Linked DNA regions of Homo sapiens: regions 2, 3, 4, 5, 6 and 7 are each reported to be linked to region 1. Evidence: microRNA targets listed by miRTarBase, many of them from high-throughput screens and not tested one by one. Region 1 holds a microRNA gene; each other region holds the end of a gene's coding sequence.

The links. The annotated mature microRNA hsa-miR-665 reads ACCAGGAGGCUGAGGCCCCU and lies in region 1 at 2,344-2,363, shown strand. An mRNA with a match to its seed (bases 2 to 7 or 8) in the 3' UTR can be bound and repressed. Matches are read on the target gene's strand: a 7mer-m8 pairs with bases 2 to 8, a 7mer-A1 pairs with bases 2 to 7 and ends in A, and an 8mer does both.
Region 2: the mRNA of WFDC8 is a reported target of hsa-miR-665. The part of its 3' UTR that is shown has no 7-base or 8-base seed match.
Region 3: the mRNA of CERS1 is a reported target of hsa-miR-665. Seed matches in the 3' UTR shown: 7mer-m8 at 1,108-1,114.
Region 4: the mRNA of TTC39C is a reported target of hsa-miR-665. Seed matches in the 3' UTR shown: 7mer-m8 at 2,203-2,209.
Region 5: the mRNA of ARL14EP is a reported target of hsa-miR-665. The part of its 3' UTR that is shown has no 7-base or 8-base seed match.
Region 6: miRTarBase lists HUS1 as a target of hsa-miR-665. Seed matches in the 3' UTR shown: 7mer-m8 at 1,583-1,589.
Region 7: miRTarBase lists ZNF141 as a target of hsa-miR-665. The part of its 3' UTR that is shown has no 7-base or 8-base seed match.

The regions. Positions count from the first base shown.
Region 1 is chr14:100,872,732-100,876,810 of GRCh38, forward strand. It overlaps MIR665 (microRNA 665), which reads left to right and starts at 2,302; the gene lies at 2,302-2,373. It overlaps MIR337 (microRNA 337), which reads left to right and starts at 1,762; the gene lies at 1,762-1,854. RefSeq lists an enhancer at 941-1,110.
Region 2 is chr20:45,548,732-45,552,810 of GRCh38, forward strand. WFDC8 (WAP four-disulfide core domain 8) reads right to left here. Exons shown (of 6, transcript NM_130896.3): 6 at 3,031-3,434. The coding sequence ends at 3,295. Among named protein-coding and RNA genes, the nearest start is that of EPPIN-WFDC6, 3.4 kb to the left of the region's middle.
Region 3 is chr19:18,867,370-18,871,369 of GRCh38, reverse strand. It overlaps CERS1 (ceramide synthase 1), which reads left to right. Exons shown (of 8, transcript NM_021267.5): 7 at 751-1,387; 8 at 1,980-2,825. The coding sequence ends at 793. It overlaps UPF1 (UPF1 RNA helicase and ATPase), which reads right to left. Exons shown (of 24, transcript NM_002911.4): 24 at 3,140-4,000. GDF1 (growth differentiation factor 1) reads left to right here. Exons shown (of 8, transcript NM_001492.6): 7 at 751-1,387; 8 at 1,980-2,825. The coding sequence starts at 1,063. The coding sequence ends at 2,773. Among named protein-coding and RNA genes, the nearest start is that of CERS1, 27 kb to the left of the region's middle.
Region 4 is chr18:24,132,160-24,136,237 of GRCh38, forward strand. TTC39C (tetratricopeptide repeat domain 39C) reads left to right here. Exons shown (of 14, transcript NM_001135993.2): 14 at 326-3,441. The coding sequence ends at 415. Among named protein-coding and RNA genes, the nearest start is that of CABYR, 4.9 kb to the right of the region's middle.
Region 5 is chr11:30,336,027-30,340,105 of GRCh38, forward strand. It overlaps ARL14EP (ARF like GTPase 14 effector protein), which reads left to right. Exons shown (of 4, transcript NM_152316.3): 4 at 541-2,197. The coding sequence ends at 769. Among named protein-coding and RNA genes, the nearest start is that of ARL14EP, 15 kb to the left of the region's middle.
Region 6 is chr7:47,961,678-47,965,755 of GRCh38, reverse strand. HUS1 (HUS1 checkpoint clamp component) reads left to right here. Exons shown (of 8, transcript NM_004507.4): 8 at 318-2,468. The coding sequence ends at 400. Among named protein-coding and RNA genes, the nearest start is that of PKD1L1, 15 kb to the right of the region's middle.
Region 7 is chr4:373,029-377,099 of GRCh38, forward strand. It overlaps ZNF141 (zinc finger protein 141), which reads left to right. Exons shown (of 4, transcript NM_003441.4): 4 at 1-4,071. The coding sequence ends at 834. Among named protein-coding and RNA genes, the nearest start is that of MIR571, 25 kb to the left of the region's middle.

The sequences.
Region 1 (4,079 bases):
GATGTATTGCATGGACTCCTTCTGACACGCGGAGCCCTCCCTGCACCCTTGTGTCTCACTGGGCATCTCTTCCCAACCTTGTGTCCCGTGAGATCTTCCCCCACCCACGTGTCACATCAAGTCCTCTTTCTTGTGTTACTCCAAGTCCCTGCCCCCATATGTCACAGAGAGACTCTTCCCACCCACGTGTCACACCAAGTCGCCTTTCTTGTGTTACTCCAAGTCCCTTCCCCCCATATGTCACACAGAGACTCTCTTCCCACACACGTCACACTGAGCCCCTTTTCTGTCTCACATTCCACCTCTCCTTCACTCATGTGTCATGAGGAGCCTTTTCCCTACTAATGTGTCACCTGAGCTTCTCTCACATGTCACTTGAAGTCCTCCCCTTCCCATGCATCACCCAGAGACCTTCCCCCCACTCATGCATTGCCCTGAGCCCCTCCCTTACTTATGTGACATGGAGCCCCTCTCCACACCCATGTGTCACACCAACCCTCTCTCCACTGATGTGTCACACCAACCCCCTCTCCACCCATGCGTCACATGGAGCTCTTCCCCCACCCGTGTGTCACACCAGCCCCCTCCTCCACCCATGTGTCACACTAACCCCCCCCACCCATGTGTCACACCAGCCCCCTCCTCCACCCATGGGTCACACCAACCCCCTCCTCCACCCATGTGTCCCATGGAGCTCTTCCCCCACCCGTGTGTCACACCAGCCCCCTCCTCCACCCATGTGTTACAGGGAGCCCCTCCTCCCTCCATGTGTCTGTCAATCTGAGCCCCTTTTCCATTCATGTGTCACTCTGAGCCTCTTTCCCACCTCCATACCCTCCTGCCACCCCTACTTCTTAATCTTTAACCCCTTTCCCTAAAGGTTTCCCTCCATGGGCTCTTTCAGAGAATGTTATATTATCAGGTCATTTACTCACAGATATTTTTGCACCACCTACCACGTGCCTGGCTGCGTGTCCCTGTGCATGTGTGTTGGTGGTGTGGATGGCTGGAGAGTGTAGGACGAGGCAGGCAGTATGGTGGTTGAGAAAGATGTCAAAGAACAAAGGAAGGTGTTTTGGGGTACAACTTTATTGAGATGTAATCCACATACACACAATCCGCCCATTAAAGCTCACAGCGAAGTGTGTTTTAGTTATTCACAGATATCTGCAACTATCACCATAATCAATTTAAGATCATTTTCATCACCCCCAAAAGAACTCCAGAGCCTTCAGCTGTCACCTTCACCCTCCATGCACACCCCCCAGCCCTCAGCAACCAAAAATCTACTTTCTGTCTCTGGGAAATTCTTGAAGTGCCCCTGGACTTCATGAGTCCTCACTGGGTCCCCAGAGGTGCCTGTTGCAACCCATTTCACAGATGTAGAAGGCAAGGCTGGAGAAGTACCAGGGAGTCAAAGCAGTGGGTGGGTGGGGTCGAGTCCCCGATGTCCACTCACAGACCTGGGCCAGAATCAGGCCTGTCTCCCCCTTCACCTCCCCATCCTCCGTCCCTTGGCCTGGCTGCACAGTCACCTGGGGGCTCTGTGGGGCTAAGGGAGGCCCAGGCCCTGGCCATAGGAGGCAGGTAGGGCAAGGCTGGGCAGGGTGGACAGGTACCCCAGCGCTGCAGGTGCCCAGCAGTGGGTGGCACTGCCTAGGCTGGCTGTCCCTTGCTGTCACTGCTCTAACCACTAGCAGCAGGCGTCCCCTCTGCCATCCGAGCGCTTGCACTGCGCTTCCGGGAGGAGGGTTGCGGCCCGTAGTCAGTAGTTGGGGGGTGGGAACGGCTTCATACAGGAGTTGATGCACAGTTATCCAGCTCCTATATGATGCCTTTCTTCATCCCCTTCAACCACGCGCAGCCCCCGGACCCTCCTCTGCACCCTTGGCTGCACGGGGACGCGTCCTCAAGTCCGCTGCTGTCCTGCCAGCCTCTTCCCGGCATGCTCCTTGGGCTCTTCTCTCTCTCTTCTGCAGCTCTCTGACTTCCTGGAGGGGAGGGCCTGGGGCTGGGCCATCTCTGAGGCCCCTCCTTGGCAGGGAACTATGCCCCTGGTGGGACACCCCCTGGGCTGACTCCACAGCCAAGGGCAGATAGGCCGGAGGGGGAGTTGGGTAGCCCTGGGGCTTCTCCCACTGAGGGGCTGGGGCTGTGCTCCCACACAGAGCCCTCCAAAGGGACCCGGCCCACAGGATGGATGGACAGACGTTGGAGAGATGGTGCCCCTTTGTGCCCAGGGTGGAGGGGGTGGGGCTTTGGCGGACCAGGGCTGGCCCTTTCTGTGCCCCAAGAGGAGGGTCTCCTCGAGGGGTCTCTGCCTCTACCCAGGACTCTTTCATGACCAGGAGGCTGAGGCCCCTCACAGGCGGCTTCTTACTCTCTCCTTAAACCTGTTCTGGAGACATTTCCCCTCTCCCCAAGGATTCCCAACTCTGGGTCCCCAGAAGCTGTCAGCTGGGCTCCCTTCTTCCCCTGTGCGTACCCTGCTCAGGCTGGGTACCTGAGGGTGCCCAATGGCAACATGAGCAGGGGGCACGGCCGTGGCCCCTGGTTCTTGGACCTCTGTCTTCTGCCTCTCTGACTAACTCAGGTCCTGTGCATGGCAGAGGTGACCCGCACCAAGCCCTGTGATATTGGCATCATTAACCCCATTAACAAGCCACGACAGCCAGCCCAGGCATGAGCATCGGGGCAGCAGGGCAGCCAGTGTGGGGAGAGAGGCCTTGCAGTAGCTGAGGCCATTAGAGAGGACAAGAGGGTGCAGGAGGGAGCATCCTCACCTCTGCCCTTCCCACTTACATCCCATCTCCCCTTCCTCACCCCTCCTTCCCCATGCACCCCTTCTTCCTGTAGGAGGGAGCACCCTCACCTCTGCCCTTCCCACTCACCTCCCATCTTCCCTTTCTCACCCCTCCTCCCCAATGCACCCCCTCCCTTCCTGCAGGAGGGAGCACCCTCTCCCCTGCCCTTCCTTCCCACCTCCCGTCTCCCCTTCCTCACCCCCGCTTCCCCCATGCACCCGCTCCCTTCCTGGTCTACCCCTCAGCTTCTGTGGTGTCAGGATGGGTATGCTTGTCTTTGTTGATCTCAGACAGGTGGACAGGGGTCTGGACGAGGCTTACTGTTTGGGTCTGAGGTCAGTGCTCATGGGCTTGGGGCATGACAAGGGTCTTGTCGTCCCCGCAGCAGGGCTCTGAGCGGGTGGGTGGAGCTTGGGAGTGGGGGTGATGGCTTCTATTTGTTGTCTTTCTCTTTTTCACTTTGGGAGCAACCGGGGTCACCAGGTGGGCAGGAGGGGACCTCACGTCTCTGCCCTGGGCAGATTGTTAAGAGCTGGTCAAGCTCCTGGCACGGGGGCCTGAGTCCAAGGCCCTAACTGGACCTGGGGCCGCCTGCAGGAGGGATGAGCGAGTCCGGACCCGAGCGGTGAGTAGCCCTCAGCTGCCTGGGTGGTGTGCTGTTGAGTGTTCCAGAAACTGGCCCTGTGTGCACCAGGGCTGGAGGCTGGCACGTTGGGCATCTCATGGGGGTGGGCTGGGTCGGGAAGGGAGGTTGATGGACAAGACTCAGCAGGAGTGGAGCTCAGGGCTCCCTCCATCCCCTGACATCAGTGACCTGGGGGTGGACAGAGAAGGTGGAAGATGGGTGCATTTAGTTGTGGCCCGCCAGGTCCCGTGGGCCTGTGTGCCAGTGTCCGCGCCAGGCTGTGCTGTCTGCTGTTCAGAGGAGTTTTCACCTTTTTTTGTGGTGGCCATGATGTCATAACCCAGCATGACATTTAACATTAACCTTCCTTTTTCTTTCCCCAGGAGAAAAAAAGGTTTGTATTATTTTTCTTTTGAATTTTTTATTTCCATAGGTTTTGGGGAACAGGTGGTGTTTGGTTACATGAGTAAGTTCCTTGGTGGTGATTTGTGAGATTCTCGTGCACCCATCACCTGAGCAGTACACACTGAACCCAGTTTGTACTTTTATCCCTCACCCCCTCCCACCCTTTTCCTGGAGTCCCCAGAGTCCGTTGTATCACTTTATCAGTAGTTCTCCTCTGGGCCTGGGGGCTGCCGCTCTTCTCTGTA
Region 2 (4,079 bases), not on the chromosome of region 1:
CACTGCAATCTCCACCTTCCCGGTTCAAGCAATTCGTGCCTCGACCTCCCAAGTAGCTGGGATTACAGGCATGCACCACCATGCACAGCTAATTTTTGTATATTTAGTAGAGATGACGTATCGCCCTTGGCCAGGCTGGTCTCCACCTCCTGGCCTCAAGCAATTTGCCCACCTAAGCCTCCCAAAGTGTTGGGATTACAGGCATGAGCCACCGTGCCTGGCTAGAATTTCTAATGAATGAGTAAGACGTCGTAAGCAGTGCTGTTTCACTCATTTCATTTCCCATATTCTCACAAACTCAGCCCAGGAGAGAGTGAAAACTGGAATATCTAAGTGGAAGGGCTCTGAGGGACCATCAAGCCCTATTTCTCAATTTATAGATGGGAATCATAAGGCCCAGAGAAGTGAGGATGCTGACTAAATGTCACCCAGCAAGTGAGTGTCAGAAATAAGATTAAGAGGGAGCTGAGCACACAAGTTCTTGCCAGAGGACACCAGGGCATGTTTTGATGTTGGTGTGGATATAATATTTTCTTGTAGAGTTGAAGGTAGAGAGGAAGGGTGAGTCTAAAGGAATGAAGTAATGTCTTTAGTGGAGACAGAGGCTGAACACCCACAAAGTGAAAGTCAGTAAATTTCTTTTTTTTTTTTTGAAACGGAGTCTCACTCTGTCACCCAGGCTGGAGTGCAGTGGCGCAAACTTGGCTCACCAAAGTCAGTAAATTTCTAAATGGTACCCAGGGTCCCCAATTAAGGCTGCATTTTTTCGTAAATTTTATTGAAAATAAATTAACTATCTTTCTGGTTGCTTCATTCCATTCTGTCTTGCCTAATTTTCAGGCCCATCCAAGCATCTCACTTTCCAAGCAGGTGAAATAAAATTTATGTCTTTGGGACTTGGGATAAATCATGGTTTTGGCCCCTTCTCTCCAATAATTTCTTGGAGAAGGCTGGGTAAGGACCCACCTGGGGTTTTGCCTCTCCTTTCTTCATCCTTTCTCATTGAGGGCATGGTGCCCTACCTCTGCCTCCAGGCCAATTCTCTCCCAGGAACAATCCTGTGCTTAGAACAGGGGACTCCAACGAGAACCAACAAGATCAGCCTCTACCTGGCACCTCCTGCTTTTTCATTAGCCCAAGATCTGTCACATGGACTGATTCTCTGTCACTGGCTTCCTATGTTGTTCCCTCTGCCTCTAACTCTATTACTAAGTTACATGTTTGCTCCCCCAAGTAAGCTCTGAACTCCATTAAACAGGTCTGTGTCTAGAACGCAGTGCTTAAAACATGAATAGGCCCCAAATAAACACTCAGTACATCTTGCTGGAAGAGCAAGGTAGGTGGGGGGGATTGGTAGGTGTGTGAATAGGTAGGTAGCTATGTGGATGGATGGGTGGCTGGTAGAGTGTGATAAGTGGGAAGATGGTTGAGCAGGGAGAGGGATTAGTGAGGAAAGCATGGATGTTTGGGTACATGAATGCATGGATTATGGATGGGTGGATGATTGGGTGAATAAGTGGATTGGATTGAATATAAAGATGGATAGGGTAGTGATGGGATATGTGGGCCTATTGATGGAGGCTGTTTGAATGAAAGGTGGAAGAGTGCATTGGTAGGGGGATGGAGGGAGTTAGGTATAGAAATGATGAATATGTATTTTGATGGGTATGAAAGAGTGTGTGCATGTGTGTGTGTGCAGAGAAAGGGGGAAGAGAGAGGTCAATAATAGGAAGATGAATTAAAGGCTAGATGGGCAAGTGGGTCTGTAGAAGAAAGATGAGTAAGAAAAGTAAGTGGATAGACATATGGAGTAGGCAAATAGCTAAGTTGAAAAGTGTGTCAGTGGAAGGAAAGGAGGGATAGGTGAGTGGGGATTGGGTATTTGCATATGTGTTGAGTGAATGGATAGGTGAGTAAAGGGATTGAATAGTTAGTAAATAGGTGGGTGGAAACATGAATGTACAAATGAAAGCATTAACCAAAGTTAAAGATATAAAAGAATTATATAGAGAACAATTTATGCTACTCTAAAGTAATACATGTGAAAATATAGGAAAAATGGATCAATTTTACCAAAATACAAAAGACCAAAATTTGCAGAAGAGGAGGTAGAAAACCTGCAGACTATAAGATGAAATATTTAAAAATTACTAAAATATACCACTAGAAAGAACCTGATCTAGATGCTTTTGGAGCTGAATTTTGGTAGCCTTCAAAAAATGCTGAATTGCTATATTATGTAAAATATTTCAGAGCATAGAAAAAGTAGCTAGGTTTCCCAATTAGTTCCCATACTCATTTTTTGAAAGTAATATGACCCAAATAGAAAAAACAAATTTAAAAAGACCTATTTTTCTTTTGACTATAGATGTGAAAATTCAAACTATACTATTAGCTAAAAAGAACCAATAATATATTGATACAGCAGTCTGCAATTAAGTTTATTAAGAATGCAAGGATGGCTCAAGAAAATTTAGTAATTTATTATGCCAACAAATTAGAAGAGAAAAATCATTATGTGACTGTATGCTTAAAAGGTATTTGATAAAATTCAGTAGTCATTTTCAGTAGTAGCTATAAATGGATAGGAAATAGGCTTAAAAAGGAAATAACTGGCCAGGCACAGTGGCTCCCACCTGTGATCCCAGCACTTTCGGAGGCTGAGGTGGGTGGATCACCTGAGGTCAGGAGTTTGTGACCAGCTTGGCCAACATGGTAAAACCCCATCTCTACTAAAAATACAAAAAATTAGCTGGGCATGATGGTGGGCACCTGTAATCCCAGCTACTTGGGAGGCTGAGGCAGGAGAATCACTTGAACCCGGGAAGCAGAGGTTGCAGTGAGCCGAGATTGCGCCTGGGCAATAAGAGCAAAACTCCGTCTCACAAAAAAAAAAAAAAAGAAAGAAAGAAAGAAAAGGAAAAAGAAAATAATTTAAGTGCAATAAAACTTATGTATTCCAAATTCAACAACAAATATCTTTTTATAGTGCAGGAGCCATTGACTTTAAAATAAGGAACTAGACAAGGATGGATGCCATTGCCTTTATTTTCATTATTATTTTGGAGGTTCTACACAATACAAGAAGACAAGAAAATAAAGTCATGAAGTTGAAAAAAAGCCAAATATATCATCACTTTCAGATGATGGGATTATATATAAAATCAAAGTAACATCATTCAATATTGTGATACTTAAGATAATTTGGCAAGTTGGATACAAGACAAAACTGACAGCTCTTTATCATGCTACTCATAATTAATGATTTTGATGATAATATTTTCTACTTACTATTCAACGTCTGGGGTCCATACATTTCAGTCCACAATGTGAGCAGCACTTTTCCACCAATGGGCACTCCTCATCCTGCAGGCACTTGGGTTTATCAATCTTGGTACATAGCAAGGGCTTGCGTGGGCAGAAACCTTTTTTGACTTTATGGGGTAAAAGAAAACACTTGACCTTGAAATACTTGGTCATAATTTGAGACAAATTTGAGGAATCTTGGGAATCTCAAACAAGGTTTTATTCTGATTAAGCTTCTTACCTTTCCCCCTACAGTAACAATAGACTGGAGGAGGCAGAGTATCAACTTTCTACGACTAATAACTTGAGGAGCATCAAGAAAAGTCTTACCATCTCTGACTTGTACCATCTGATAGGATTCCTGTCTGCTCCTACAGAATTAATGGATCTGGGTTATATAACCCCAGAGTACCACAGGTGGCAGGAGTATTAGCACACAGAACCTTCTTGTTTTACAAATTGTAGGCATTGAGGCGTATTTAGAGGGAAATGAGTTGCCCAATGCCACATAGAAAGCCAGTAGAAAAGTTGAAGTAGGTTGAAAAGCCTTGGACTCCTGCCACCACACTATACTGAACCTTAGAACCTTAAAGCCACACCTGGACAATCCCTGGGACTACATGGGGAAGTAAACACCTGCCTTAGAGGAGGCAGGAAAGTTGGCTTCTATCCAACATCATTTGCTACTAATGTTTTCCCCAGCCCATCTTACAGGATATGAATATGATGTGCATGCTTTGAAGTTCTGTGCAGACATGAGGGCTTATTAGGAA
Region 3 (4,000 bases), not on the chromosome of region 1:
GGTGCCACCACACTACTCAGGAGGCTGAGGCAGGAGAATCGCTTGAACTCAGGAGGCAGAGGTTCCAGTGAGCTGAGATTGTGCCACCACACTCCAGACTAGGCAACAGAGCAAGATTCTGTCTCAAAAAAAAAAAAAAAAAAAAATTGCTGGGAGTGGTGGCGTGCCCCTGTAATCCCAGCTACTCTGGAGGCTGAGGTGGGAGGATCCATTGAGCCTTGGAGGTTGTGCCACAGCTCTAGCCTGGACCACAGAGTAAGACCAAAAAAAAAAAAGGAAAATAAAAGAACATGGAAGGGAAGTAGGTGGAGACAGCAGATGCCAGCCAGGGCCACTGGAGTCAAGGACTAGCCTTCGTGGGGTGGGTGGCAGAGGAGAGGAGGATGTGCAGGGTCCCACTGTGGAGGCGGTGGAGTTGTCAGGCCCAGGCCGGTACGTGGGTTTTGCCCTCCAGCGGCCTGGAGAGGCAGGGAGGAGGGGAAGAGGAAGGTTTAATTGGAGAGGGGGAAGCAAGGAGGAAGTGCCAGGGTGCCAGGGGGGACATACGTGCCTACGGGGCAGGTTGAAGGAGGGGCAGGGTGAAGGCAAGGAGGGGCAGGGTGAAGGCGAGGAGGAAGCCACAAGGCGAGGCCCGGGCCTGGCCGGGTAAAAGGAGCCAGGGGGTGTGAAACGGCCAGAGAAGAAGCGGGAAAGAGGGCCAGGCGGCCGCGTGGGGCTCCCAGGCTAACCTGCGCCGGTTCTGACCCCCAGGAAGCCACTGAGGAACGGCCTGGTGAAGGACAAGCGCTTCTGAACCCCTCGGCCCCGCCCCCGTGGACCCGGCCCCACCCCGAATACCCCGGCCACGCTCCCCGTCCTTGGCCGCCCCTCCACCCCCTCCAACTCTGCTCCTCTAGGGCCGCCGCCACCTCCCCTGGGACCCCGCCCCCTCATCCTGCCTCCAGTTCCCGGCCACGCCCCCCAGGACCCCTGCCCCTCCGGGGACACCGGCCCCGCCCTCAGCCCACTGGTCCCGGGCCGCCGCGGACCCTGCGCACTCTCTGGTCATCGCCTGGGAGGAAGATGCCACCGCCGCAGCAAGGTCCCTGCGGCCACCACCTCCTCCTCCTCCTGGCCCTGCTGCTGCCCTCGCTGCCCCTGACCCGCGCCCCCGTGCCCCCAGGCCCAGCCGCCGCCCTGCTCCAGGCTCTAGGACTGCGCGATGAGCCCCAGGGTGCCCCCAGGCTCCGGCCGGTTCCCCCGGTCATGTGGCGCCTGTTTCGACGCCGGGACCCCCAGGAGACCAGGTCTGGCTCGCGGCGGACGTCCCCAGGGGTCACCCTGCAACCGTGCCACGTGGAGGAGCTGGGGGTCGCCGGAAACATCGTGCGCCACATCCCGGACCGCGGTGAGTGGGGCTTTCGCTGGGGACACTGGTCCTGGAGGCCAGACCTCGCAGGGCGAGCCTCGAGAGTGGCCCGGGGATGCCCGAGCAGCTCCGAGGGTCCCCACCCGCCCTGTCCAGGCTACTAGCAACTTCGGCCACCGCACCTCACCCTTTCCTCGTCATCTGCTGCACGCCGGGGACACATGTCAGGGGGTTCCCAAGACCAGTCCTTCTGCTTGATGCTGAAGCCCTGTCCCCACCCCATGCCCACCCCCACCTCTTGACACTAATGCCTTCCTGCAGATGCCATCCCCACACCCTAGCATGGCTTCCCCAGGGGCCCAGGTTCTGGCTCATGTCTCCCACTTCGGCCACCCCTCCTCCTATGCCCCCCGCCGAGGGCAGCCCACCCCCCCCGCCGCACCCCGCAGGGCGCCTTCCTTGGAACTCATGCCCTGCCCCCACTCCATCAGCCCACCCCGCCGCTTCACACCCTTCCCACAGACGGTGCGCCCCGAGCCCCAGCGTTCACCTTCCTCCCTGTCCCTAACCGAGACCCCATGGGCAGGCCGGGGACGCAGCGCGAGCCGAGTTCCTGTTCCTACCTCCCCAGGTGCGCCCACCCGGGCCTCGGAGCCTGCCTCGGCCGCGGGGCATTGCCCTGAGTGGACAGTCGTCTTCGACCTGTCGGCTGTGGAACCCGCTGAGCGCCCGAGCCGGGCCCGCCTGGAGCTGCGTTTCGCGGCGGCGGCGGCGGCAGCCCCGGAGGGCGGCTGGGAGCTGAGCGTGGCGCAAGCGGGCCAGGGCGCGGGCGCGGACCCCGGGCCGGTGCTGCTCCGCCAGTTGGTGCCCGCCCTGGGGCCGCCAGTGCGCGCGGAGCTGCTGGGCGCCGCTTGGGCTCGCAACGCCTCATGGCCGCGCAGCCTCCGCCTGGCGCTGGCGCTACGCCCCCGGGCCCCTGCCGCCTGCGCGCGCCTGGCCGAGGCCTCGCTGCTGCTGGTGACCCTCGACCCGCGCCTGTGCCACCCCCTGGCCCGGCCGCGGCGCGACGCCGAACCCGTGTTGGGCGGCGGCCCCGGGGGCGCTTGTCGCGCGCGGCGGCTGTACGTGAGCTTCCGCGAGGTGGGCTGGCACCGCTGGGTCATCGCGCCGCGCGGCTTCCTGGCCAACTACTGCCAGGGTCAGTGCGCGCTGCCCGTCGCGCTGTCGGGGTCCGGGGGGCCGCCGGCGCTCAACCACGCTGTGCTGCGCGCGCTCATGCACGCGGCCGCCCCGGGAGCCGCCGACCTGCCCTGCTGCGTGCCCGCGCGCCTGTCGCCCATCTCCGTGCTCTTCTTTGACAACAGCGACAACGTGGTGCTGCGGCAGTATGAGGACATGGTGGTGGACGAGTGCGGCTGCCGCTAACCCGGGGCGGGCAGGGACGCGGGCCCAACAATAAATGCCGCGTGGTCTGCTCCGCTGGTCTCCTTGGACTCCTTGCCTGGGTGGTGGGGAGGGCGCCCCTCAGTCTTGGTGATCGGATAGGCCTTTCCACCTCCAGGCCACCTGCCAGAGGCCTAACGCGCCACTCCGGGGAGCCGCCCGGACAGGCCCAGGTGCTGCCTACGGGAAGGGCCCAGGGGCAGGGGTCGCCCTTCAGTCCTGCAAGGCAGACCTGTCCCTTCTGGGCTTTGCCTGTCTCCCTCTGGCCTCCTTCACACCCCAACCCGTCACTCAGCCAAGGCAAAACCCCAGCACCCTCCACCCCCTGCAGTTTATCCAACCTTGGTGTGAAGTCAAAACTGTTTATTAATATTTGGTGACAAAAGAACTTAAATTGACCGAAAATCAAAAGTTACATTGCCTTGGTACAGTGCGCCTGGGTTTGTCAAGGCTGCTGCTACAAAGCTGGAGAACACAGCACAGGGCGAAGCAGAGGCAAAGCGGCCCAGCCCAACAGCCGGGATGGGGCAGGGAGCGTCCCTCAGGCCGCCGCGGGGTCACCGCGGAAACCTACCCGGTGCATGCCTCTACGCGGCCTACCGGAAGAAGGGGAAACCGAAAGCCCTAGAGCAATGGGAATAAATAAGAGTCCCTGCCAGAAGGAAGGTGGCCTGTGCGTCCCCGTCTGTCCCATGTAGAAGCCGGAATCTGGAGGTGTTCGGATCAGGGCCAGTGACAGCCCCAGGCCCGGGGCAGGGGAAGCTGGAGGCCTGGCCGCCAGGCAGAATGACACCCCAAGCCAGGCGTTCGAGGGGCTGGGGCAGCTCTCCTAAAATGACCCTCTGCCAATGACACCACACCCTCAGTCCCTTCACACAGAACGCGGTAATTTCTGTAACTTGTTTCCTTACCCCCCAGAAGCAGCAATCACCCCATCAGCAAAGTTGCCGGCAGGCAGAGCTCCCAATTTGGGCTTTCGGTGTGCAGCGCTCCGTGTCTAACCAGCACAGGGACTGTCGGTACCTCCTGGGGACGGGGACAGGGACAGGCCCTCTTGTCCTTCCACCAAATCTTCCAAAGGCCCCCGGGAAAAAGCCGTCAATCCGGGAACAGCCACCTTCTCGCCTCCTGGCCACAGGGCCAGTCCTGGCCAAGGCCCCTCGCAATGGGGCCAAAAGCACCTTCCTCACCGGTGCGGGGCCCTGCGCC
Region 4 (4,078 bases), not on the chromosome of region 1:
AAGATAACTTTTGATTTTATAACTATGTCCCTGAATTAAGAATTTCTAATAGCAACTTATATTGAGCACAACATAAGACTACTTTTTCAAGAATAACTCGAGGAAAATTGTCCAAAGAGAACCTTATTGACATTCAGTTGACGTTTTTAAAAATGAATACAAAGTTTGAGGTTTGAGTAATATGAAAATCAAGTGGATGGGAAACCTTTACTGGGAGTGTAGAGATTTTACTTTGGGAAATGCAAAATTGAGTGTGCTTTATACCACAGTACCCTGTGCAAGCTTAGCTAACAGAGTGCATAAATATCTTTCTTTGATCTTACAGGAGGATTTCTCTGGCTACGACTTTGAAAACAGATTGCATGTCCGCATCCATGCTGCTCTGGCCTCTCTGAGGGAATTGGTTCCTCAGTGACAGACCCGGAACACCCGCTCCGTCCCTCCCCACCCAGGGTCCGCACTTTAAAATAAAAGCAGAGGACAAAGCTCTTGTGAAGATGGGCTTTTCTTCTGAAAACCACCTGTGCCAGGGACACATTTTCCCAGTTAAGCTGACATATTAAAGATCTCCTCTTTTAAACATGTAGCTGAAAAGTAATAATGATGTTGAGGAGGATGATGATGGTAATAATAACTAACCACCTGGGGAGAGGGTTAAGTGACCTTGCTCAAACGTTTTAGTTTTGTGATTTATTATTTTTAAAATAAAATCAAACGGAACATCCAACCCAAGATCCTGTAGGAACACCTACCTTAAGCACATATCTGAATGGGTAACATGATGAGGTACCTGTAAAATTATTAACAATATCATGACATAGCATTTATATTTGTGTTTTGAAAAAATAAAAGTGCTTTCTAGTGTTTTACTTTATCCTCAAAATACTCCAGTGAATAACATAGCACAGATATTCTTAACCCCACTTTGCAGACAGTGAAACTCAGGCACAAAAAGGCAAATTGACTTATCCCAATTAATTATTCCTGTTATCAGCAGAGCAATGAATAGAAAGCAGATCTCCTGACCACCAACTGACTTTTATTGTAAAAATAATTCATGTTAATAGGCCAGAATTCCATGTTTTACTTATTAAAAGAACAAAATCTTCAGCTGAAGTTATGTCACCAGAAATAGTCATCTCCAGATTGTCTACAGAATGTTTCAAAGCGATGGACACTCTTTTTCCTTTGAAAGCCAACCAAGTAAGAGCAAATATTAATAGAAGATAATTTTACAACTAAAAGTGTGACTCTTTTGCTAATCTATTAGCCTAGTCTATAGATTAGACAAACAGTATCTACATTTTAGGAGTTTACCTTTCTTTGTGAAAATTGTCAAATTACCAACTTTTGGAAATCTTTTGACACATTACTTGAAAAGGTTATTCGTGAATGAACATAGATTTTGGCCTCAAAATATTTGCTGGTGGAACATTTGCTGGGCTACACAGTGCCAGGATTTAATCATTTTCCCCTTAGCTCAGGTTATTTAGATATTATACAAGGAATTCAAAGTTATTTTTTTATTCTTCATTGCTAATTTTTGTCATTTAATTTACCTCCATGCCCGGTACTGCAAACCTGTGGTTTTGAAGAATCTAAATACCTCAGTCACTTTTAAGAATCTCTGCCATAATTTGGCTCAATGTTTAAGGTTAGATTTTTAAAGAAATTTTTATTGAGCTAAAGGATATCATTTTAGGGTATCGTTTATTTACAAATTCTTTTGGCTGAAACATGATCTCATATTAATATTTTAATATTTCTTTTCAAAATAAAACAGAAAAGCAAGTAGAATGTTGGCAAATTTTATCTGATTTGACCTTGTTTTGAGGGAATAGTCATAATTTCTTTGAAAGAAGTTATTTCTCACTGATTTTGGCTAAACAGTATTCATATTTCTTCATCTCTGTTACTGACCACTTTTCAGTAGACTGTTTCCAAAATGTGTATTCACATTGACTTTCTCCCTGATGTGAATTCCGTGTGGGTTTTAGATAATAGTAAGAGAGAAGAGATTGCTCTCCTATATTCAGTGAATGAGAAGGGAACTTTTTTCTGAAGAGCAAAATTGGTGCCCAAAAATATTGGACATCTGTTTTTTGTTTTTTTTTTTTTTTTTTTTTTTTTTTGAGACGGAGTCTCGCTCTGTCACCCAGGCTGGAGTGCAGTGGCGTGATCTTGGCTCACTGCAACCTCTGCCTCCTGGGTTCACACCATTCTCCTGCCTCAGCCTCCCAAGTAGCTGGGACTACAGGCACCCGCAACCACACCCGGCTAATTTTTTTTGTATTTTTAGTAGAGATGGGGTTTCACCATGTTAGCCAGGATTGTCTCCATCTCCTGACCTCGTGATCCACCCGCCTTGGCCTCCCAAAGAGCTGGGATTACTGGTGTGAGCCACCGTGCCCGGCCTGGACATCTGGTTTTAACTAGATGGAAGGGAAGAACATTATGAATCTTTAAAATACGGCTGTTGCCATTTTTCTCTCTTCTTAACATGCAGCATAGGTGACAAGCTTTTCTGTCATCATCATGGAGCATTCTGAATCATGACATTTTTGTTTGAGAGTTCATTCTTGAATTTTCAGTTCAAAATATTGTTTGAACTATTATTCCACATTCAAAGATTATATAAGGTCCTGTGCTTTTGAATCTTTTTCAAAACATTTATTTCTGCCTGCTTAAAAAAAATACTTTTATTTCCCCACAGAGAGTTCAGGACTTCAGATTAGTTTGTGTTCAGCTCACTTAACTGGATAGACAATTTTGCGTTTTGCAACACCATCCTGTAGGTTTTCTTTACTAGTCAAAGTGTAGGTCTTTTTAAAATTTTTAATCTTTATTTTTATTTTTATTTTGAAACAGAGTCTCACTCTGTTGCCCAGGCTGGAGTGCAGTGGTGTGATCTGTGCTCACTGCAACCTCTGTCACCCGGGTTTAAGCGATTCTTCTGCCTGAGCCTCCCAAGTAGCTGGGATTACAAGTTCCTGCCACCGTGCCTGGCTAATTTTTGCAGTTTTAGTAGAGGCAGGGTTCCACCACCTTGGCCAGGCTGGTCTTGAACTCCTGACCTCATGATCCACCCACCTTGTCCTCTCAAAATGCTTACAGGCATGAACCACTGTGACCGGCCAGGTCTTTTTTTTTTTAAAGAGTCTATCCTAGGCTTGGTACAGATGGCGCCTGTGGTAAATCTGTGTTAACATGGTGGTAGACCATGGAGAATGGGTAGATGGAGCTTCTAGACTCCAAAACAACAAAACCACAGTGTGAGTACACTGTCCCATTAGGTTGACTGAAGTCTGAGTACATTTTCTGGCCTGCGTGCCGTGACTTATCCAACCTGTGAACTGATTGTGATCTGCTTGGTAACTTGGTTTGGTGTAAACTGCTCTTAACCCTTTGCTGATGAAGAAAATAATCATATAAGTGGAACTATTTGCATCTATGTGTGCTTCTTTTTTTATGTTGTCATCACTCATTCCTTCCCCTGTCCTATTTTGGAGGCTCTCAATGGATCTTCTAACTTATAAATGTCAAATATATTTTTGTATTAGATTGTGCCTATGATGAGAGAAATCTTTAATGTATATTTTATGTATGCTGAACACATTTTTATAATTTGACACACTTGGAGGCATGGTCTAGTAATAATAATGTAATATGTACCTTGCTGGTTAATATAACTAAGATTTTGCCTTTATTGGGTTAGGTATCTTTTTTTTATTTTAGCACCTGATAGCTGTCTTCTACTGAGTAAAGAATTATAACTTTTAGATGTCACAGAAAATTAGAGTATTTATTGTCACATATTGTGTAAGTCAATTATTTACTGAATTTGCACTTTTCTGTCTCTGCCAACTAAAGTTAAAGGACAAGTCATATCTGATTTTTAAAATGAGCACATGCACAGGCATGCACACACACACACACACACACGCAGACACACACCTTTGCTGTGTAAACTTTTCCAGTGGATTTCTTCCTTAAGCAAATCATGGTGGCAAGTATTCAAATACGGTTTTCACTATGAAGATACACATTCACAAAATCATGATGTACTGTTTTGGTTTCT
Region 5 (4,079 bases), not on the chromosome of region 1:
AATATAATCATTCAGAATTTTTTTTCTAAGTTCAGTCAACATTTCTATATATGCCATGTATTCCATCTGTTAAAATTTACCATTGAGTCATTTAAATATTTTTAGGCCAAATTTACTAGAGTCCATTAAAGAACAAGAAACATTAATTGTAGTATAAAAATCTATAGAGGTGGTATACTATAATAAAAATAAAACTGTGTTGATAAAACAGTGAAGAGGTTGGTAGCTAATAAAGTGAACCACTATTAACCTGTCATTCTTTTTTGTTTGTTTAAAGTAAAGGGAAAATTATGCACTTCAAGAAGCGTATTCAGAATTTTTAGATTTGTCTCAACACTCTATAGAGTTAGGTCTCCTCTTCTCACATGGAGTTCATTTACTGCTGACGATAGAATAAGCCTTGAGCCTGATAAATTATAGATGATTTTGGCATGACCTCATCTAAAAATATTTTATCTCCTTTTTTTTTTTTACTGTATTTTCAATTAAATCAAAAATAACATATTTATGAGGTATAATTCATTGTGTTTTATTTTACAGACAAGTGATACCAGCAAAGAGTAAGGTCTATGATAGCCAGGGTCTCCTGATTTTTAGTGGGATGGACCTCTGTGACTGCCTGGATGAAGACTGCTTAGGATGTTTCTATGCTTGTCCTGCCTGTGGTTCTACCAAGTGTGGAGCTGAATGCCGCTGTGACCGCAAGTGGCTGTATGAGCAAATTGAAATTGAAGGAGGAGAAATAATTCATAATAAACATGCTGGATAATCTGCGGTACCAAACTATGGAGCCTTTAAAGGTCTTTATTTCTAAAAATCTGTTACTCTAAGATACATTTTAAGCTTGATTATCATATGACAAAGATTTTAAAACCATCTCAGTGTGCCCTAATTTTTCATCTTGGGTGCTTTAAGATTCACTATTTGATATAAATTCAGATAGGCTATTTTTCAGTAGTCAGCGTTAAGCCTGTCTGGATCAATATAAACAAGTAGGGTGTAGGCAGTCCTCTATTTGCATGTTTCCCATGGGCACAAATTTCAGTGACCTAGATTTAGTTTAAATACCAGTTTCCTTACCAGGAAGGAAAGAAAACTGGTAAGGAAACTGTTGTTGTTAAAATCTAGGTTAAAATTTTAGTTAGCACATTGTAACTGAGTAATTACATGAAGTACAAACCTCTCTGCTAGCTCTTCAGTCTACAAATCGCTATGTAAATAACAGATATGCTTCATGATTGTGACCAGTCATGTTATTTCTTTCAAATTCTTCCAGTGGTTTGTCCCTGTGCATCTGTTAATTCAGTTCACGTACAGCAGAGCATGTAGTTATGCTGTCTCTCTGTCATCTACTTGACATTCTATAGAAGTGAACACTCGAAAGAACTGGTCAACAAAGATGAAAGTGCAGCAAAGCAATGAAAAATGATAACACTGGAAGTGAAATTTTAATCAAACATAAATGAATTTGTAGAAGAAGTCACTGACCATGGGAATGTTGTTCTTGCTGCTGTGTATTCATAGGAGCTTAGTGAAGGCAAACTTACCAACACAAATAAGCAAAGTGGTTGCAATAAAGACAGATACGTCCCAGAGGAAGTGATGGTTAAAAAAAAAAAACTTTACATTAAAAGATATTTAATGTGAATATAGAAATATTTCACAACATTGAAAGCACAAGCAATAAAAGGGTGGAAGCTGACCCAAACTTAGAAGGAGTATGGCAGTTTGCCGTGAACATAAAAGATGCTTACTCAGTATGGTAAGTTACTTGCCAGAAAAAAAGGCAAGCCCTATTCAAACTACTTTGTTTTTACAATGAAATAAAACACTTTAATTCTATTTCTAATGTTTTAAATTACAGTGTACTAAATATTTTTAAACATTTTTGCATTTTTTTCTACATTTATAACTGGTCTTAAGAGTTTTTAATATTTGAGCAGAACCTTAAAGGTCATGGAACAATCATCATTTTCCCTATTGATTATTAAGATTGCAGGACCATTTTTATGGTCCCACAGTACCATGTGAAATGAGGATCGCTTGTAGCTGGGAACAGTGCTTACTTCAGGGAAAACTGATTTTGATAGAACCGACTAGTTGAGTATTAAACTGTTTTGGAAATAATTTATATATCTAAGTGCTGAAATATATTTCTCTTCTCCCCACTTATTCAAATAAAAAAGTTTTAATACTATAAACTTTTCATTGTTAGCGCCACGCAGTCCTTGTCAAGATTGTTCTGGGGGACAAAAACTTGATGTATAAAGCATGAATATACACACAGTACTTAAACAGATACCATATCTGTGGTATTAAAATTTTGGGGGTGGTTGATTAGGATTGTAAAAAGACTCCTTAGGGAGTGAGGATGGAAAAGAGAAACACTGGTTAATACAGAGTATAAATAAATTTTTTGGAAATTGATTGCATCTTGATGTTGGAATTTGCTTGGATGCTATTTGGAGGATGGGGGAATGGTATCGTCTCTTTGCTTTTATTTTATTTTTTTTTGAGACAGTCTTACTCTGTTGCCCAGGCTAGAGTGCAGTGGCTCAATCTCGGCTCGCTGCAATCTCCATCTCCTGGGTTCAAGTGATTCTCCTGCTTCAGCCTCCTGAGTAGCGGGGACTGCAGGCGCGTGCCACCACGCCCAGCTTATTTTTTTGTATTTTTAGTAGAGACGGGGTTTCACCATATTAGCCAGGATGGTCTTGATCTCCTGACCTCATGATCTGCCCTCCTTGGTCTTTGCACTTTTTTAAAGACAGCTGTCATTTTGTCTAAAAGCTTTTTGTCACATGGGACATTGCCACTAATCTGGGTTTTGGGGGGTTTTTTGCATCCTAAATACAGTCCTTCAGTTAAATCAAATGTGCTCTTAGCAATTTGAAAGATTTTGTAGCCATTAAAACTCAATTTATGCAGCCAGTTTGAATTGACCATTAGAGGGTTTGTTTGTTTTTTAATTTTTTTGCTTTTAAAATGACTGGTTTTACTTTGAGGGAATGGCATATTCAGCCTTGGAATTACATATTTTTAATAATTTTAACTGTTCACTCACCTGTTACCAGAAGTACATACAGTTAGCTTGTCAGTTCCTTGATCTGTATGATTTACCTGAACACTGGCAAAAGAATATTTCAGCTTTATTCACTTAAGTCAGATGCTAGATTACTTTCTCTAAAGTAAGGAAATACTTCATTATTGAGGACATAAACACTCCAGTTTTATCTGAACATTAGGATCATTAGATCTTAATTGTTTCTACCATCTTTTAGTTTTTCTAAGTATGACAGTGCTTAGGCTTTTCGTAGGGACAAATTAAAATCAGGTTTTTTACTTAAAATAGGAATATTTTTGATGGAATGAATGACTTTAAAATTGCCATATTGCAGCATTTTTTAGAACAGACCTGTAATTTTTCAAAGACTAATACGTTTTTCAAAGGAAAATATTCTTGAGCAATTTTGCTAATATTTGTTCATCATGCCCATTTAGGGAAGCAAACTTTTAATGAGCATACAAAATGTTTACAGAGAAAGGTGTATCTGATTTACAGTAAGCTGTAATAAAGCTATGTTTTGGAAAAATTAAATAATGAGCCCACTTACTATTTTGTAATATAAAATTACAGAAATATGGAATATAATGAAATCATCTAGAGCCTCTTTATATTGTGCATAAATATTCCAGGTGACTATAAATTATTTTAGAATTAATCTAAAAAGCAAAGTTTTATAAACAATTTCTGTTGTGTGTAGATCCTAGTAGAGAAGTTAGGTCACAAATGTTGGTCTCACACAATGTTGGTCACAAATATTAAGGTAGAAATGCATGTATATATTTGAATAAAATGTCATCTCGTGATCTTTTCCTTTTTTTTAAAATATGGAAATAGCTATTTACCTTGTAACATCATATATAGGATTCTTCTCTTTTTAAAGTATTATGTTTAGTTCTATATAACAGGCTGTTATACAACCTGACAGTCTACTCTAAAACTGCCTCCCTGGCGTGATTTCAAGCAAGTAATTTTTAGCAAGTGAATTTTGAAATATCCATATATATATATACAG
Region 6 (4,078 bases), not on the chromosome of region 1:
AGGAGCTGCTCTTCGCTGCAGAAGGATGCTCATGTGGGTGAATGTGGTTTGCCAGGAAGCCAGCCTGCTGGGTGTTTTGCCAAGGGCTTGGGCCGCTTCACTTTTCCTCTCCTCGCACAGGGAGCCGCCAGTGCTGGGGCCGTGATGTAGCCTCAGCTGTGGCAGTGAGAGTGAGAGACTGTGGTCTCTGCAGCTGCCTCAGGGAAGACAGATGCCTAAAACAGGAGGTGCAGGCTGGGAAGGCTGTTCTGAAAAAGTAGAGATCAAAATGTGTGTGCTGCACTAGGTCTCTAAAATCATGGCTTTTCTCTTCCCAGATATTGTGAATAACAAGATGGTGCATTTTGATCTGCTTCATGAAGACGTGTCCCTTCAGTATTTCATCCCTGCGCTGTCCTAGCACCCTGTCGCTGGAGTTGGCATGCAGAGACTTTGTCAGGATGGGAGAGGCCGCAGGTGTTGTGTTCTGATCACTGGTCTGTGCCCTCACAGCACCGCACATCGACACACTGTACTTATTTGTCCCTCTCTAACATTTTAACTAAAAGTTGATTCAACAACACACAGTTGGATAAACATATCACTTCATGTTGCTCATGTCTGTTTTGCTTTGTTTTTAAGACACTGAAAAGAAAAGCTAGAATTTATTTATTCAGACTTTAAAGAACAATTTCTCATTGATGTTGTGAAAATCGTCATGTATTTAGACTTGGTGTAGTAGCCAGAATTCGTAAAGCTGTTGCCTGGGAGCTTGGTACTTTCCCTCCAGGCAGAGGCTCTAGCTCAGCACGGCCTGTAGCGCACAGTCAGTCTTGCATTTCAGTGTGTTCACCCCGCTGCTCCTGCCCCTTGGAGCCCAGTGACAGAAAGAACAGCCTCTGTCACCCCGCCGCCACTGCCTTGGTTACTCAGAGCACTGTGGGGTGTCACAGCTGCAGCATTTGGAGTCTCTCTCTTGCTGAGGACTCAAGCCCACCTGAGTCCACTCCCCTCTTGATGCCTAGAGAGCTGGCCCAGCCAACACAGCTCTTAGCTGGGAGCTCCTTCTGCCATTCCAACTAGTTTCTTCCTGGGGCCAGTTTTGGGTTTAGGTTGTAATTCCTTATATTTCTTTCTTCCACAGTGTATCGGATCTGTCGTTCTGGAAAGAAGACCCTTCTATTTAGAGTAGAAACAAACGAAACTTCTAAGGTATCATCTGTGTTAAGTGATGAGACCATATTTCTTTGATGTTTCTGAACATCAAAGCTGATTCAGTACTGGTAGATGTGCTCATTCTCCCTGAAACATACCCATCATATTTCCTATTATAATTACATCTCATTGTCCTGTGGAGGTGGACATGATAAACATTATCTTTTGTTTTCTTGTTTTGTTTTGTTTGAGACGGTCTCATTCTGTCACCCAGACTGGAGTGCAGTGCCACAATCATGGCTCACCGCATTGACCTCCTTGGCTCAAGGCATCCTCCCACCTCAGCTTCCTGACTAGCTGGGACTACTGGTGTGCACCACCACACCCAGCTAATTTTCAATTTTTCATAGAGACAGGGTCTCACTGTGTTGTCCAGGCTGGTCTTGAACTCCTGGGCTCAAGCCACCCGCCCACCTGGGCCTCCCAAAGTGCTGGGATTACAGGCATCAGCCATCACACCCATCCATAAACATTATATTAATGTCACATTACAAAACTGAGACCTAAGTTGCTTAGGATAAAATGAAATTGGAAGACTAGCTAACATGAAAATTTATATTTTGGCTTTTTCATGTTTTTTGATAAAACCAGTGTATTTGAATGATTCTTTTGATGTTTAGTAATGGTTTTTTGTTTGTTTTTTGGTTTTTTTTTTTGAGACGGAGTCTCACTCTGTCGCCAGTCTGGAGTGCTAGTGGCGCGATCTTGGCTTACTGCAGCCTCCACTTCCCAAGTTCAAGCGATTCTCCTGCCTCAGCCTCCCGAGTAGCTGGGACTACAGGCGCATGCCACCACGCCCGGCTAATTTTTGTATTTTTAGTAGAGACGGAGTTTCACTGTGTTGGCCAGGATGGTCTCGATCTCGACCTCGTGATCACCCACCTTGGCCTCTCAAAGTGCTGGGATTACAGGCGTGAGCCACCACGCCTGGCCTATGTTTAATAATGTTGAAATAGGATGGAATATTTTGTTAAATTAACATTTTAAAATTAGAAGACACCGTTTTAATTTTTAAACCCTTCCTCCTCTCATTGTAACGAAATTAATTCCAGCTGCAGTGAGAAAACTTAAAAATCATGATACAAAATGAAACAATATCTGAAAGTAGTTTTATAAAACTGAAATTGCTGTTAAAGAGAATGTGTTAGTGACTTAACCATTTGCTCTATGTGATGTTTATTATCAAATACATATAATTTTGAAGATTTTAATGAATGGCTTAAGATTTTATCTTTGTGTAGAATGTGGCTAAAGAAACCTTAGTTGAGATTCAAGAAGTTGGTGTCTGTTTCTGATTCTTATCACAACTTGCTACTTAGTGTCTACCAAGTCCTCCACCTCTTTGCTCCTCAAAGAGCTGTGAAAAATGATGGCAGGAGCCGGTACAACACCACAGACTTAGAGAAGGGCACAGTGCTGCTTTATTGAATGATCTACCAAGGTAAAATTTTGCCGGGTCAAGAAATAGCAATTTAATCCATTTAAAGGAATGAATATAATTTGAAACATTAACTTATTTCAAGACTAACATCTCAAAGTGTTGAGACCTTTTTTAAAAGAGCTTTCTGGATTTTGAGCATACTTTCACTGGCTGTGATTTATAAGAATTTGTGGTTTGTGGAGTACTGTCCTAAATGCCAGGGTAAAATAAGGCAGTCCCATGCCTTACCTGCCCTGGGCTCAGGGCCTCACATCCTTTTGGTACGCACATCTTTTCTCTTCTCCCTTGTTCTGCTCTCCCGCAGCATATACCTCCTAGCCCCAGGCAATTACTTGTCTAATATCTATCTCTATATATTTGCCTATTCTGGCTTTTAGCTTTTTTTTTTTTTTTCCTGAGGGAGACAGGGTCTGGCTTTGTCCCCCATGCTGGAGTGCAGTGGTACAGTCATGGCTCACTGCAGTCTCAAACTCCTGGGCTTAAGCAGTCCTCCTGCCTCACCCTCCCAAGTAGCTGGAACTACAGGTGTGTGCCACTGCGCCCAGCTAATTTTTATATTGTTTTGTAGATATGAGGTTTTGTACGTTGCCCAGGACTCCTGGGCTTAAGCAGTCTGCCCGCCTCAGCCTCCCAAAGTGCTTGGATCACAGCTGTGAGCCACCACACCCAGCAATTCTTTTTATCCAAGAATTTTATCACCTGAGTTTTGAGGTCATTCTGTGCCATATCAGAGACACTTAAGAATTTCCCATTCCAGTTGCTCCTGGCTAGCATCCAAGTGGCCCTGCCATCCTCCTCCAGCCCTTCCTTGGCCCAGCAGGGAACTGCTTGGCCATCAGGTCTGTAGGCTGAGTTTATAGTGAGGTACTGTGCCTGGTGTGAAGGAGCCCACTCTTGGGGACCTAGAATGTGGCCTCAACAGTAGTCCTGGGGTTGGGATTCTGGTTCAGCCACTAGGCAAAGGTATTTAATGACATTCATGTTCTTAGTGTATGTTGCCAATTTAGCAAAGCATCCATCGTTTTGAAGAAATAACAATTCAGAACTTTTTAAAACAGCTGTATTGAGATATAATTCACATATCACACAATTCAACCATTTAAAATAGACTGTCTAGTGGTTTTTAGTATGTTCTCAGAGTTGTACAACCATCACCACTATCAATTTTAGAACATTTTCATCACCCAGTAAAGAAACTTCTTAACCATAAGTAATCATTTTTCATTTTTCTCTTCTCCCTTATTCTGCTCTCCCCCACCATATACCTCCTGGCCCCAGGCAATTACTTGTCTAATATCTGTCTCTATATATTTGCCTATTCTGGTTTTTAGCTCTTTTTTTTTTCTTGGGGGAGACAGGGTCTGGCTCTGTGCCCCAGGCTGGAGTGTAGTAGTACAATTATGGCTCACTGCAGTCTCAAACTCCTGGGCTCAACCAATCCTC
Region 7 (4,071 bases), not on the chromosome of region 1:
CCCTACACTTGTGAAGAATGTGGCAAAGCCTTTAAATGGTCTTTAATATTTAATGAACATAAGAGAATTCATACTGGAGAGAAACCTTTTACTTGTGAAGAATGTGGCAGCATCTTTACCACATCCTCACACTTTGCTAAGCATAAAATAATTCATACTGGAGAAAAACCCTATAAATGTGAAGAATGTGGCAAAGCCTTTAATAGGTTCACAACCCTTACTAAACATAAGAGAATTCATGCTGGAGAGAAACCCATCACATGTGAAGAATGTAGGAAAATCTTTACCTCATCCTCAAACTTTGCCAAACATAAGCGAATTCATACTGGAGAGAAACCCTACAAATGTGAAGAATGTGGCAAAGCCTTTAATAGGTCCACAACCCTTACTAAACATAAGAGAATTCATACTGGAGAGAAACCCTACACATGTGAAGAATGTGGCAAAGCTTTTAGACAGTCCTCAAAACTGAATGAACATAAGAAAGTTCATACTGGAGAGCGGCCCTACAAATGTGATGAATGTGGCAAAGCCTTTGGACGGTCCAGGGTCCTGAATGAACATAAAAAAATTCATACTGGAGAGAAACCCTACAAATGTGAAGAATGTGGCAAAGCCTTTAGACGGTCCACAGATCGGAGTCAACATAAGAAAATTCATAGTGCAGATAAACCCTACAAATGTAAAGAATGTGACAAAGCCTTTAAACAATTTTCGCTCCTGAGTCAACATAAGAAAATTCATACTGTAGATAAACCCTACAAATGTAAAGATTGTGACAAAGCCTTTAAACGGTTCTCACACCTGAATAAACATAAGAAAATTCATACTTGAGAGAAATCCTACAAATGTAAAGAATGTGGCAAACCTTTGGATGATCCACAAACCTTAATGAACATGAGAAAATTTATACTGTAGAGAAACCCTGGAAATGTGAAGAACGTGGCAAAGTTCTTTACCTCATTCTCAAACCTTGATAAACATAAGAGAATTCATACCGGAGAGAAACTGTACAAATGTGAAGAATATGGCAAAGCCTGTGAATGGTCCACAAACCTGAATGAGCAGAAGAAAATTATTACTGGAGATAAACCCTGCAAATGTAAAGAGTGTAACAAAACCTTTAAACAGCCCTCACCGGTGAATAAACATAAGAAAAATCATGCTGGAGGGAAGCCCTACACATGTGGCAGAATGTGGCAAAGCATTTAATTGGTCCTCAATGCTTAATAAATATAATTCATGCTGGAGAGAAACTTCACATGTGAACCGTGTGGCAAAGCCTTTAAATGGTCCTCAACCCTTAATGAACGTAAGTGAATTCATGCTGGAGCAAAATGCTTCACATGCGAAGAATGTGGCACAGTCTTTACCACATCCTCAAACTTTGTTAAACATAAGAGAATTTATACCAGAGAGAAACCCTACACATGTAAAGAATGTGGCAAAGCCTTCAATAGGTTCTCAACCCTTACTGTGCACAAGATAATTCATTCTGGGGAAAAAAATGCTACAAATGTGAAAAACGTGGCAGAGCCTTCAGACCATCCACAAACCTTTATGAAAATTCATATTTGAGAGTAGAAGATTCATTCCACAAACTTACATTGAGAAGATATGAAAGATGAATATAAGAATTCATCCTAGATATAAAACCATAGAAATGTAAAAGATGTGACAAAACCTTTAAGCCATACTCCAGGCTTCTTAAACATAATGAGAACTCATACTGGAGGAAAGTCTTACAAATGTGAAGAATGTGGCAGTCTTTAAATCTTCCTCAGTCTTTTCTAATCATAAGATAATTCACACTGAAGAGAAACTGCAAACGTGGAAAGTGTGACAAAGCTTGCAACCACACTCAATCTATTCTAAATATAAGAGAAATGATATTGGTGAGAAGCCACAAAAATATGAAAAATGTGGCAAAGCCTTCAAATGCTTGTCACATCTTACTGTATATATATAATTCCTACTGAAGAAATCCCCTGGAAATGCAAAAAATGTGGCAGGATTTTTACCAATGCTCATCTTTTTGCACATGATATCCTTTATATTCGAGAAAAGTTATAGAAATATAAAAAATATAGAAAAGTCATATCTCCTCACATTTTACTAACTAGCAATGTTCATACTTAATAAAAACATTATAAATGTAATTTCTGTTGAAAGACTTCAGAAAATATAGGCCTTTAAAGTGAAGAAGAGTATTCTTAAGACAAACAATACAAATATAAAGAGGGTTGTAGTACCTGTACTTCTCTCATGGATTTTGTTGTACACATTTTATAATAGGGGAAAACACTGAAGGAGACTTTCTTCAACATCAGAAAATTTATATTGGAGAGAAATCCTACAAATGTAATAAATGTGGAAAAACATTTGTTCAAAAACTGCAGCTTAAACAGTTTACACTAGAAAATATTTTGTAGATGCAGTAAATGTGAAGAAATATTTAGTCTAAAAAGAAGAGTATGTAAACATCAGAGGATTTACAGTAGAAAGAACTAAGGAACTAACACTTTAGACACTGCAGTAAATCAGAGTATTAAGTATTAAAAAAATCCAAAGTTGAACCTATTAGAGAATTTCTTTGTATATAAGTTGAAAAGAAGATTTTTGAAGAGATACTACATTTAAAGTATATTTTTTCACTTGAAAAAAGTATAGATTTTTTGAAAAGCATATAATAGTTAATTCAACTCAAATTATTTCATACTGTTTCAACATTCCTGTTTATGTGAAAGCATGTGATGAATTGTTGCTGCATCAGAGATAAGAGAGATTCTTTTTCATTAGGTGGGCATTATTTGTGAATTTTTACAAGAAAGAGTGAGGACAGAAATGAAAGATCCATGATGAAAATCTAGCAGAGAGGCTTTTTTGTAGTTGACAATATTGAGTGATGCATGAGGTAGGTGTTCAGAGTAATATTCTTCTGCATTATAGTGAGAGAAAATCTGTTTTAGTAGTAAATTGTTTTACCAATTATACATTTATGTAATAAGATACAGTAAATTTTAAAATTATTTTAAGATTATGTGGGAACATAATTTTTTAACTAAACAAAATTTTTAACGTGTTGAAATAATTGTTGCTTGAATGAAGTGTCATTATGCCACCAACTTAAACCTATCCCACCTTACTCAATGGTGTAGGTAAAAGATGGTAACAATGGTAACATAGTTGAATGACATTTTTAGTATTCTCTTTTTCCAGTGGCTTTAAATAGCAAATACATTGAAGAATATCATTCCCATATGTTGTATTTTCACTCTTGTTATTTTCCGAAATTTTTGTGGGTACATAGTATGCATATTTATCTATGGCATATATGGGTTATTTTCTTATACAGGCATACAACATGTAATATACCAGAGTAAATGAGTTATTCATCACCTCAAGCATTCATCCTTTGTATTACACACAATCCAATTATACACTTTAATTATTTCTAAATGTACAATTATGATTGTAGTATTATATCAGTATAATTATAATTCATACATTTATGCATCCTGAATACTTCTAAAAAATGTTTTACATTTCTCTTTGAACATGTGGCATCTTTTCCTGCAAACTTATACAAACTTTAGTTCCATTTACATGAAGTTAAGTATGTAAATGTGTTGCTGTAAAGATAAACCTTAGGTGTAAGAAAATTATAGAGCAAGCAATTGTGTTTATGTGAGTTTGTACCTATTTTCCAAAGAAAATAGCAATATTAGAACAAAGAAGATTATGTTAATACCATGGATAATTTACTGGAAATCTAGAAGCCTGAAACATTCTATATTTTCTTCTTTTTATTTAATGACTCTAGAATCTAATGGATTGTCGTTGAGAATCTCCCCATACAAACTCCTTGTTTTTATTTGTCTGGTGCTCATGCTAGAGCTATAATTTCTTTGATTCTCTTTTTTGTTTTCACTTCATGAAGTGTTTATTATGTGAGCTGGTCAGAAATTATAAGAATGATTTTTATAAAATGTAGTGAATGTAAAATTTTTAGATGTAATTTCATAATATATGTATTAAGTTATTTTAGTTAGAACATTTCATTTTGTTGTT